Homo sapiens: one gene and its partners. The protein of the gene in region 2 interacts with the protein of the main gene of each other region in a pairwise test. Each region holds a gene or a part of one and is shown on either strand. Other genes may lie near its edges. The genes, in order: UBE2K, CIAO2B and PECAM1.

Region 1 (3,749 bases), on a different chromosome or scaffold from region 2:
CCATGAAATAAAGTTAACTGTAAACAGACGGCTTCCTTTTTCCTATCTAAACATTGTTTCCCTCTACATACTAGAAGGTATACCTGGCTCCAGCTGTTCCCTACCCCAATCCATCTTAAATCTTTAAAACAATAACAACAAAAATTCATAATTTCCTATTTTGCTACATAGGATTGTAAAACATTACCATACACCTACTGCACAGTTTTAAAAGCTCAAATCAGGCATACACTTATACCCAAGATCTGCTTTTCACATTGGTAAACTTATTAAGCAGCCTCAACAGTAATACAGTATGCTGCATTCTGTAGTGCATAAATAAGCAAAATCCGTTTAAACTGCCAATTCTTTCTTACAGATACTTAAAAAGAATTATTTTGCATAGTTTTATGTGCCAACAATCATAAATGTGTATTACTTCTAAAAAATGAAAAAAAAAATCAAGTCTTCCATTTCATAGATTATTCTCTTCAAAAGCAAAATACTTAGACTCCATTTATATATCCTTGAATGTGTTACGTGTTTAAGTAAATCATAGTCGTGATTCCAAACATTTCGGGGTGCCAACTCAGAGCACCTAATTCAGTACCTAGTTCCTCAAATATTTATATACCACTGAATACTTATTTGGGTCCACTAACTGCCATTCATTCATTCATTCATTCATCAGTACTGAAATACTATACAGCTAATTATTTCTTCTTTTAAAAGAGGCACATACTCAGGAAACAGGCCTGATTATAACAAAAGCCTACTGGAGCATCAGTGACTTCTAACAAATCGGCCTGCCCTAAATGGGATTTCACTGGATTTTTTTTTTAACATAATTTTTGAGGCTTTTAAAACTGACAAACGGAGCCAACTCAAAAATATTAAGAATTACAAAAATAATTTCCACCAGGGTACTTTTCCCCTAGGCCTGACCTTTTAGTGTCTTTTTGTCCAAACATATTTAAGACCAGAGGAAAAAAGCAATTGCTTTAGTTTCTATGTTTGGGTAACTAAATCTACCCACAGACAAGAGAATAACAAAAACCAAACAGTACAGTGGGAAATATACCAGAAAGGAAAAAAAAGATCATCACATTAAATGTAAATGAGGTAAATTTTTATAATAAAGAATCTTTTATGAAGAATGTCTCAAACCAAATATTGTACTTTCCAATTTCTTGGGCACTGGGGATGCTGAAGTGTAGTTAGATGAGTATATAACCCTATAGGGCTCATGTGCATAAAAATCAAAGCAGGATATAGCTGCCTCCAAGAGCATGTATGTATGTATATATGTAAAATGCTTGACCTTTAGAAACCTCTGAGCTCTCTCACCTTTGTTTAACCACAGGACAATTAAATATACCCTGATAATACAGGCAAAAAATAAACTGGGTAGATGTGTCTGATATTTTTAAACCCAAATTCTACTAATACTACCAAGTTGCCCTCCACTTAAAAAAAGTAGTTCTAACCAACACTGGAGAAAAACCATCCACATTTTCACACAATCCCACCTTACTTCAAAATATAAAGTACGAGGTTTCAGGTATTTAAAATAAATAAAGAAAAATCTTGTTTCCTTTGGCATCTTTAGAAAATAAACTACAGCAATAAAAAGAGGTGATTGTATAAAGACATGCGTAAGCAAACATATGGGGAAAAAACAGCAACTTGTGTTTAGTATGTAATAATATCAGCTATAAGAGTTTACTGTTAATTAGGAAAGCCTTACAAATTTTTGGAAGAACCTTCACATCTTTAACATTACAATATATTTAATAATGGTTCTTTTATTGCTTCTAGTATCAAGATTATTGAGAAGTCAAATGAAGTTATGCTGACGTTATGATTCAAAAATTATCTTCCAAACATTTAACGATTATAATTTAAGATAAATAACACTTAAAGAAAGCAAACCTTTTATAATATGACTTTCAATATACAGCCTTACTTTAATTCAGTCTGATTCCATTACATTTTTGTTATTTTGTATTGGTCCTAAAAATTTAAAAAGAATTGTATTTCTATATATAGAACTGCCTGCATAAATCCACTTCAACCTTCATAAAATGGTTACATTAGTGTGTGATCTTGCAAAACTAATAATTTTCAAACTTTTGAACTTAGAATGAAATGTAAATTTAATACAAATAGTCTGACTATGTACAAGAGAAGGTAAAGTTTTCAATTCTCGTATTATCAGAAACATCATAAAGAAAGCTAGATTTATAACACACTTCTATTCCTATGTGCATCTGAAGTATGTACAATAAAACACCAACACAGCTTTCATGTGTCAATAGGGGAAGTGCAAGCAAGAATGACTTGAAGTATCCAATAAAGCAATCTCTATAGACCCCAAAATCAGGCTAAAAACTGCAAACAGCTGACTGCATCCTTGCCAGTTCTCAAAGAAAAATTTCATCACTAAAAAATAGGTGTCAAATTCACTGAAAAACTAAGTTGGGTTCTTTCATTAAACCTGGGAATAATGTAACATCAAGTATTTACTATTTTTGCAAGAGAAATAAAATTGGCAGTTCCATTTTTACATTACTTAAGAAAAATTTAAGAGTGTTTGAAGAACTGGGACAAGACATTCCAAACCTACGACCTAAAAATGAAGCAAGGGATACATACTGTCCTTCAGCACATTTCCCCACCTGATACAGAGAAATTTACCATTAGAATATTAGCTGTGTGTGGCAAGGCGGGGGTGGGGGGGGTGAAGGGGGAATCAGACACTGTCCCAGTCTGTTGACAAGGACAAAAAGGCTCTGAATAGGTCACCATCTTCAATTCTGAATAAATTTCATATTTAAGAATTCTCAAATGCTTAAAATGGTGGTCTTTTCAGCTACCCATCCTAAGAAGTCAAGTACAAGCATGCAAGTAAATTCACAGGCACAGAGGATCCATGTTAAAAACAGTTAAGGTAGCTGTGATGCAACACCAACAATTTGAATGGCCCTGACACACTCAAAATATTATCTTAATTATTCAACAAAATCCTGAAGCAAACTCTTGCTAGTCTTGGTACACTGCTAAACACTAAAGTAGCATGTTTCTTCCATGGTTTTAGCTTAGCTCAGGGAATTTTTACACTATTAAGAAAAAAAATTAAAGTATTTCCCCTTTTTAAATTTACACAGACGTTTAATTAGCTTTATTTACAGAGCAGGGATTTTTTTTTTTCAGTCTCCAATGGTGCCTAGATAACATCATTAGGCAAGAATGCCAGTTTAAAAGAAATCTATGCAGAATCCTAAAAATAACAGATGTTGGTGCTCCTCAAGAAGAGGCAAGCTTGACTATATCAGCAGCTCTCTATGCCTCAGTTACTCAGAAGCAATTCTGTTGCAGTCTCTACATCCCATGATTTTGAAGACAAGGCCACTATTACTGCATTCTGTAGAGAAGAAAAGGGGACAGGAAATTAAATCTCAAGGAAACATTTAAACAATACTGAATCATTCACTCTTTATACTGGGAATTAACACCTTGTTTCTTTTCTGTAAGTTGATTTACATTTGCAGTGCATGGAAAGCTTCTAAAATCAATGACAGTAATTAGTAAAAATAAAAAAATCACTGACTTTGAAAACAGAAAATATGTTTACCAAAACTAGATTTTCTCTTATTTTCCTTTTTTTTTTTTTTTTTTTTTTTTTTGAGACAGGGTCTTGCTCTATCACCAAGGCTGGAGTGCAGTGGCATGACTATCGCTCACTGCAGCCTCGACCTCCTGGGCCCAAG
Region 2 (3,749 bases):
AGTGCTAGCCAGCCCTACCTCTGAACCTCTATATAGGATATGTCCCCCGCAGCAACAGAGCCCTCCTGTCACCTCCTTCCCAGGACCCCACATATTGATCAGGCTACTTCAACCACCTGAGCCCACCTAATCTGCCTTCTTAGGATCCCTCCCCCTGGCTGCCTCCTGCGCTGCTGAAGCCTGACACACTCTGGTCCTGTATATTTGGTGAGAGGGGATTTGGGAGAAGAGGACATGGTAAGCAAAGGAGAGTCTTCTCAGGCCAGCTTCGGTCTAGGCTATAACCCATACTGAGGAGTCTCTGGCAATTTCACTCACACAGTTACCCATCTCCAGTCTTGCCCATAGACTCCTGTGCAAGGGGGAAGCCTCAGACTGCTTAGGGGGTGCCCGGGCCAACACCCTCACCACCAGTCCACACTTACCTGCATGCTCTGAGGCATGGGTCCCCGGAGTAATGTGCACGTCCATCTGGGAGGGAGATAACCAGGGCCTGAACACCCACCCACCGACCCACACTTTTCCCTGCAGCCCCCAGACCCTCAGGCACCATCTCCAGCTGATCCTTCCTCCTAATCATGCCTTTGGACTCTGGCCCTTCCGTTACACCCCAAACCCATCCACAGGTATTCCAATTCTTTTTTTTTTTCCAAGACTGAGTCTTGCTCTGTTGCCCAGGCTGGAGTGCAGCAGCGCAATCTCGGCTCACTGCAACCTCTGTCTCCCAGGTTCAATTTGATTCTCCTTCCTCAGCCACCCGTGTAGCTGGGACCACAGGCACACACCACCACGCCCCACTAATTTTTGTATTTTTAGTAGAGATGAGATTTCACCATGTTGGCCAGGCTGGTCTCCAACTCCTAACCTCAGATGATCCACCCGCCTCAGCCTCCCAAAGTGCTGGGATTACAGGCGTGAGCCACCGCGCCCGGCCCTAGCTATTCCAATTCTATCCAAAGAACTGGCCCACTACTGTTGATTTAAAGGCCTGCCTGTGCCCCACCCCTGGTCCAAACCCATCTGCCGCTCCCTACTGCCCTTCCTGCCACACTCTTCAATACTTTTCTCCACTTTCCAGCTCAGATCTTTATTCTTGTCACATCGACTTGGAAAGCTTCCTCCCAGTTTCCTCTCTGCTAATGGGGATCCTTCCAGGCCCCACTCTGATGTCCTATCCATGTTCATGCTCTCCCAGTCCCCATCCTCAGCAGTAGACCCTCAATGCCTGGTCTCACTCCCGGGGCTCAGCTCCAACTGACCTTGAAACGCTGAGGAAGGGAGCGCAGAAGCTTGACCTTGATGGACAGACCAATAAGGGTGGCCATGCTGCAGTGCGGAATGGTTGGTGTGAAAGCCACAGCCACTGTACTCTCGGGGTCGCTAACCTGGTTGTGGAGGAGAGATGTCAAGAGTCAACCACCCTCAGCCCAAGGTCCCTCTTCTTAGTTTGTTGTTTTGGGCAAATCATCCAACTTCTATGGGCCTCAGTTTCAACACCCATAAAATAGGCACAACAATCTCCCTCCCCAAAGATACCCTTCGGTGTTCGTGAGCATAGAGCACGCCAGCTCCTGCTGCACAGAAACCTTTCTGACTCTCTGGAACAACTCGCTCCCCTCGGAAGTGACTCACCTGAACCCGCACCTGCTCTACTACGTTCAACTCCTCTAGCGTCAGTGGATGCTCCGGGTCATTGATGGAGCGAATCAGATGTGGGAAGTGAAGGAAAAGGGACTCTGCGCCCTTGCCCACTTAGAACCCTCTGCCAGGAACGCCCTGCTGGGATGCGGCTCCACCAGCTGCTCGATATCACTGCTCCCCCCACCGCAAGCCCCCGGAACCCGCCCGCGCCCAGCAGCGGCGGATATCGAAGATCTCGCGTGCGTCGATGCTGTCGGGAACCTGCTCGTCCTCCTCGCCTGCCGTCACAGGCCGCTCCCCAGAGCGCTGGTAGATGAGGGGGTTGGCATTCTCCAGGAGGCCGCCGCCGACCCCGCCGCCGCCTACCATCGCGGAACCACCACCGCTGATCCTAGCAGGCGTGCGCTTCCGCTCCAACCCGCGCACTTCCGGAGAACGGGAAGGGGGCGTGGCGTGGCGACGGAGTCGCGCGAGGGACACGCCGCGTTGTGGGTTCTCGGCCTGAGGTGCGAGAGAAGCGGTGACCGCGGCCCTGGCTGCTCGGACCCGGGAACATGATGGTCGCTGGAGCAGAAGGCGCTGAGAAGGGACCACGGCGGCGCTGGGTCGTGCGAGCCAGTAGCGGGCTGAAACGTAGAGGCCAGAACCAGGTCTCAGGGGGCACTAAAGGCGGTCGGAGGTAATCCCCACACCGCTTCCTCCTGGAAGTCAGGCTGGCCGGGAGCTCCCGTATCCAGGACGGTTGGTCGCCTCTGGCCTGGCAGGGATCCTAGTGTCTCGGGACCTCCCGGTGACGCGCCTGCCTCCCCTGCTGCACCATAGGCCCGGGAGTACGGCGTCCCCACAGCTTGGACCGGCAGGGGCTCGTGAAATGTTTGTCAAGTGGATAAATGACCATGGCCGTGGTCTCCGCGGGAGGTGAGGAAACTGAAAGCCACCGAGGAAAAGGGGGGCGCTCCTTAAGAAGTGCCGCGGTCACGTGTACGTTTCAAAAGAATGGCGTGACTGAGTAGGGAGGGGACCGCGGAGACCCTCAGACCCTGGACTGTAAGGAGATGAGGGGCCGTGAAGGGGAACCCAGGAAACTGAGTCCTGAAAGCAAGGAGGAACTTCCAGAATGAAGGGCGCCGACACTCCTTCCTGCCTTTGCTCAAGCGGTTCCTTCACCCCGATCAAGTTCCTTCCCATTTCTCCATCTGGGGGATCCTGAACGTGCACATCCTCAGAGAAGCCCTCCTGGGGTCTCCAATTCTAGTTTATTGCCCCCTCCTATCGATCCCCCAGCGCGCTCATCGGGCCTGTGGACAAGGACAGGTTTGAAGAGAGGATTCCCTGGATCGCGGAAGGGCTGCAGGAATGGCACAGCCCCTTCCGAGGATGCCAAAGGAGCCCGGGCAAAGGAAAGTGGCCGTGCCCGGGCCTGCCTACCACTAGATCCCCACCCACCTATGACTGCTCAGTCCCGCTCTCCTACCACACCCACCTTTCCCGGCCCAAGCCAGCGCACCCCGCTGACTCCCTGCCCAGTCCAAACTCCAAGGCTGGGCAAGGCACTGATCCACTGCTGGACAGACCCGGGGCAGCCTCTGGGTGAACAGCAGCGTGTCCGCCGGCAGCGAACCGAGACCAGCGAGCCGACCATGCGGCTGCACAGACTTCGTGCGCGGCTGAGCGCGGTGGCCTGTGGGCTTCTGCTGCTTCTTGTCCGGGGCCAGGGTGAGGCTCCCTCGGAGGGGCGACAGGGACCGGGCTCAGATCTGCCAAATGCTGCGGAGGCAGAACCTGACAGTGCGGGAGGGCAGGCGCCTGGGAGGTAGGAGCTGGTGGAGATGACAGCGTGGAACTCGTGAGCCCCACGCAACGCCTCCCCGCCGCCCAAGGTGGGCTCCTAGAAGCACAGAAAGGGTCGGGCTGGGGGACACCACGGCAAGGAACCAGCGGAGTACAGGGGCCCCAGGAGCGCCGGGACATGCCAGGCCGGGTAGGCAGCCTGGGGTCGGAGTGGGTGAGGGATTGGGGTGTGGGGATTCAGTCCATTTCCCTCTTATGATTGTGGCTGTAGCGGGTGCTGCCGGCCGGTAATAACAGTAATAGCTTCTGGCAGCATC
Region 3 (3,749 bases), on a different chromosome or scaffold from region 2:
CACATTCCCATGGCTAGCTCGAACAGACAAGGGAGAAGAGAGGGCAGGATGGAAAAAAGAAAAGCATTTTATAAACTCTGTTGAGATATGAGTCTCAGCTCTTCATCTTAACACAAATATCATCGACAAAACAACAAAAACAGTGACCTAGTTTTTACCGCCACAACCACCACCACCTCCCTTGCTATAGAAGCCCTTCAAGATGCCCCCCCCAATGGTCCTTGCCCTCTGCTCATCACACTTACACGTGGTCACCTCCCACGTTAACATTAACCAACAAAATACTCCATCAGGTAATAAAAGACAATGCAGCTTTTATCCTGATCACTCTCTCTCCTGTCTGGGATCCCTCATTCTGGGGAATGCCAGCAGTCATAGCATAAGCAGCCCTGTGGAAGGTACCCAGGATGAGGAACTAAGGCCTCCAGCCCATAGCCACAGGAGTGAGCTTGGAAGCAGATTCCCCAGACTCAGTCAAGCCTTCAGATAACCGCAACCCTGACCAACAATTTATCTGCAATCTAATGAGACCCGGTGCCAGCACCACCCAACTCAGCCACTCCTGCATTCCTGACCCTCAGAAACTTCAGGATAATAAATCTGTGTTATCTTAAGCCAGTAAGTTTTAGGTAAATTGTTATGCAGCAATAGGTAACAAATATACCACGCAACCAAACTTCAAAAGTCTCTGCCTGATTCTTGTTTTGATAATATGGAAAACATTATCATCTTTCTAAATAAACCAGCCAAGCACAGCCAAACTGAATTACTGCCTGTAGGTCTCACTATTTACACAGAGTGACTGTTCACAACCTGGGGGACACAGCCCCTGGGAGGTGCATGGGTGGGTGTTAGGAGGCTCATCAACTACCTCCAATTGTGTGCAAATGTGTGCTTTTTCTGGAGAGAAGGCCCACAGATTTCCTTACTGAACCCAAAAAGTTTCAGGACTATTGTGATGAAGGGTGGGGCTGTGGGACAGCCTAAAGAGGTCAGATCTTTTCAACCCGGGGAGATGAAGGTTGACGGAGAAGGATCTAAATTTGGAAAGTCACCACGGAACAGCCAGTGACCACAGTGCCAAACCCCAACATGCTAAAAACAGTGGGACCTTGACCTCAAGGCCACTCATCAGTGGATGGTGGTGCTCCCTGGAAACATGCGGCACCATCAGTCAGCCAGCCCCCTGGCCCTCAACCTGGAAATGACTCAGAGAGAAAGTGGAGGGTGCAGGAGAAGGAGGGGCTGCCCACCCTCGTCAGGAAAATTACTGGGAGCCACGAAGCATAGAGTCCCTGATGAACTTCTGTGCTCATCAGAGAGCATGCTGAGCCATCTTCCTACCCGAATCTCAAGCATCTCCAAGTTCAGTTCAAGTTCCCATCCAATGAGACATGTGTCGAGAACCTGTGCCAGGTGCTGGGCTGACAGAGTAAGTAAGAAATCATCCTTGCTGTCCCAAACAGCAAAGGTTGCTGGGGCCCACATAGCTGGACTCCAGTGATATCAGTAAGCACCAAGAGGAAGGGCTGCCCAGGAGAGGTCAAGGAGTCTGAAGGAAGTGACCACTGAACTGAGCCTGCCAGGCCAAGGACAGGCAGTGGGGTACTCCAGGTAAGAGAACAGCGTGTCCCAGGACACGAGGGTGTGAGAAATCCGTGCCTTCTGGGCATGGCCCATTACAGAAACCAGAGTGTGGGGCTAGAGAGGCCAGGTGGCTGGGTCTGTCGTGCCAGAATGGAGGGCTGGCCTGCTGTGCTGACAAGCTGGGCCCTGTCCTGAGGGTGTCAGGAGGGGTGTGACAGCACCCAAGGCCAGTAAACAGCTTGGAAGTGGTTCAGGTGAAAGCTGATGAGGCCTGAGCTAGGCGGGTGCAGTGGGGATGAGGGAAGGATAGGCTGGGGATCTCCTGAGTGGACTCAACAGGACTTGTTTCTGGGGTGTTGAAAATGTTCTAGAATGAATCCCAGCACTTCGGGAGGCCAAGACAGGTGGATCACTTAAGGTCAGGAGTTTGAGAATAGCCTGGCCAACATGGCAAAACCTTGTCTCTACTAAAAATACAAAAATTAGCCGGGCATGGTGGTTCGTGCCTGTAATTGCAGCTACTCAGGAGGGTGAGGCAGGAGAATTGCTTGAATCTGGGAGGTGAAGGTTGCAGTGAGCTGAGATCCAACCACTGCACTCCAGCCTGGGCAACAAGAGTGAGACTCTGTCAAAAAAAAAAAAAAAAGAAAAAGAAAGAATATGTTCTAGAATTAGACAATGGTGATGGTTGCACAACACCGTGAATGTACTAAATGTCATTAATAATAAATGTTATATTATTTGTATTTTACCACAATTTAAAAAAAGACTTTGTTTGATTGGATATGGGGTTGAAAGAATGGAAGATAAACTTCCTGGATTAGATTCCCAGGAGGATGTGTGTGCCACCAAACTAAAATAGAAAATGCCACACGCAGCTGGGTGTGGTGGCTCATATCTGTTATCCCAGCACTTTCGGAGGCCGAGGCAGGAGGATGGCTTCAGCCCAGGAGTTTGAGACCAGCCTGGGCAACAAAATGAGACCCCAGTCTCTACAAAAACAAACAAACAAACAGAAAAAGATAAGGAAGGAAGACAAAGTGATGGTGGTGCAGCTGCGTGTGAGGGGCCAGTAGGAGGACTGGGAGGAGACATCAAAGGTCAGCCTGTGTTAACTGGAGGCTCAGGGCAGAGGCCAGGGCTGGACTGTGAAGGTGGGAGGAGTGTGAACTTAGGGGAGGAGGGGGGAATGTGGAGGTGTTGAGAGGGGAGCTGGTCTCCAGGGAGGATAAGACCAGGAGCCCGCAGAGACCAGGACAGGGTTCAGACTCCAGGAGAAGACAAAGTAAGTCCAAAGTCAGCCATGGGGGAGAAGGAAGAGGGTTTGTTAGAGAGTGAGGAGACAAAGCAGGGAAGAGGATGGAAAAGGTCAAGGAGCGAGGCTTTGGGGCACGATCAAAAGTCAAAGGCAGGAAAGGGGTACAGGGAGCCGAGGGCTGGAAGTGTCCGTTGCATTTGGCATCAGGTGGTCCTTGGTGACCCCTCAGCAAGAGGAGACCCAACAGCCGGAGAAGTGGGGCCTGAGGCCAGGCTGCTGGGAGGCGAGGCGTGTCTGAGAGGTGAGGTGGGTAGGCACAGATTATAAACTAACTTTCAGAGAGGTTCGACTGAGAAAGGAAACTAGAAAGGCCAGATAGGGGGACACCAGATAAACGGTGGGGGTGGGTGTCTGCTTGTGATTTTTCTTTTTCCTAAAAAAAGAGTTCCCATTCACTGAGAGAACAGAGCCAGAAGCAGAAATAGAGATTCTAGAAGTGGTGGTAGGGGAGAGGGACTTGAATGCACGTAGGCGTGGGGTCCTGGGGGTGAGGAAGGGTCTCAGCCTAAGTGCCTGGCTGGCCCCCATCAGCTGAGGAGCAGGGTGCATGTGTCCTCCGAGGCCGGGAGGGAAACCGAGAGGATGGGTGGAGAGGCTGATAAGCCTGCAGCCAGGCCCAGGCGGGAAGTTGAGGGAGTTCCCTCCAGATGACTGTTTTCTAGGTGAAGATGGAGCAGCCGTCACCTCCTGAGGTGAGGCAGCTGCAGTGAGGTGCGGGCTGGAGGGGAACAAAGAGGCCTGAGATGGAAGGAAGGGAAAGGGCCGAGGCTGTCCCAGGACCCCAGCCGCAGAGCGGGAGACTCAGAGCAAGCCTGCAGGCCACGCACTGCAAATGCTGGCCTAG

The links.
Region 1: the proteins of CIAO2B (region 2) and UBE2K interact in binary tests that used the Homo sapiens proteins (3 or more experiments, as listed by UniProt).
Region 3: the proteins of CIAO2B (region 2) and PECAM1 interact in binary tests that used the Homo sapiens proteins (3 or more experiments, as listed by UniProt).

Annotation. Positions count from the first base shown.
Region 1 is NC_000004.12:39,778,014-39,781,762, reverse strand, and holds part of UBE2K (ubiquitin-conjugating enzyme E2 K), read right to left. Parts: intron 3,404-3,749; coding exon 3,329-3,403; 3' UTR 1-3,328. UniProt on the Homo sapiens protein: Accepts ubiquitin from the E1 complex and catalyzes its covalent attachment to other proteins. In vitro, in the presence or in the absence of BRCA1-BARD1 E3 ubiquitin-protein ligase complex, catalyzes the synthesis of 'Lys-48'-linked polyubiquitin chains.
Region 2 is NC_000016.10:66,932,355-66,936,103, forward strand, and holds the start of CIAO2B (cytosolic iron-sulfur assembly component 2B), read right to left. Parts: upstream 2,049-3,749; 5' UTR 2,011-2,048; coding exon 1,869-2,010; exon of another isoform or gene 1,713-1,868; coding exon 1,633-1,712; intron 1,386-1,632; coding exon 1,260-1,385; intron 472-1,259; coding exon 426-471; intron 1-425. Other genes in the region: CES2 (cocaine esterase isoform 1 precursor), read left to right, coding at 3,282-3,357.
Region 3 is NC_000017.11:64,384,187-64,387,935, forward strand, and holds part of PECAM1 (platelet endothelial cell adhesion molecule precursor), read right to left. Parts: intron 1-3,749. UniProt on the Homo sapiens protein: Cell adhesion molecule which is required for leukocyte transendothelial migration (TEM) under most inflammatory conditions.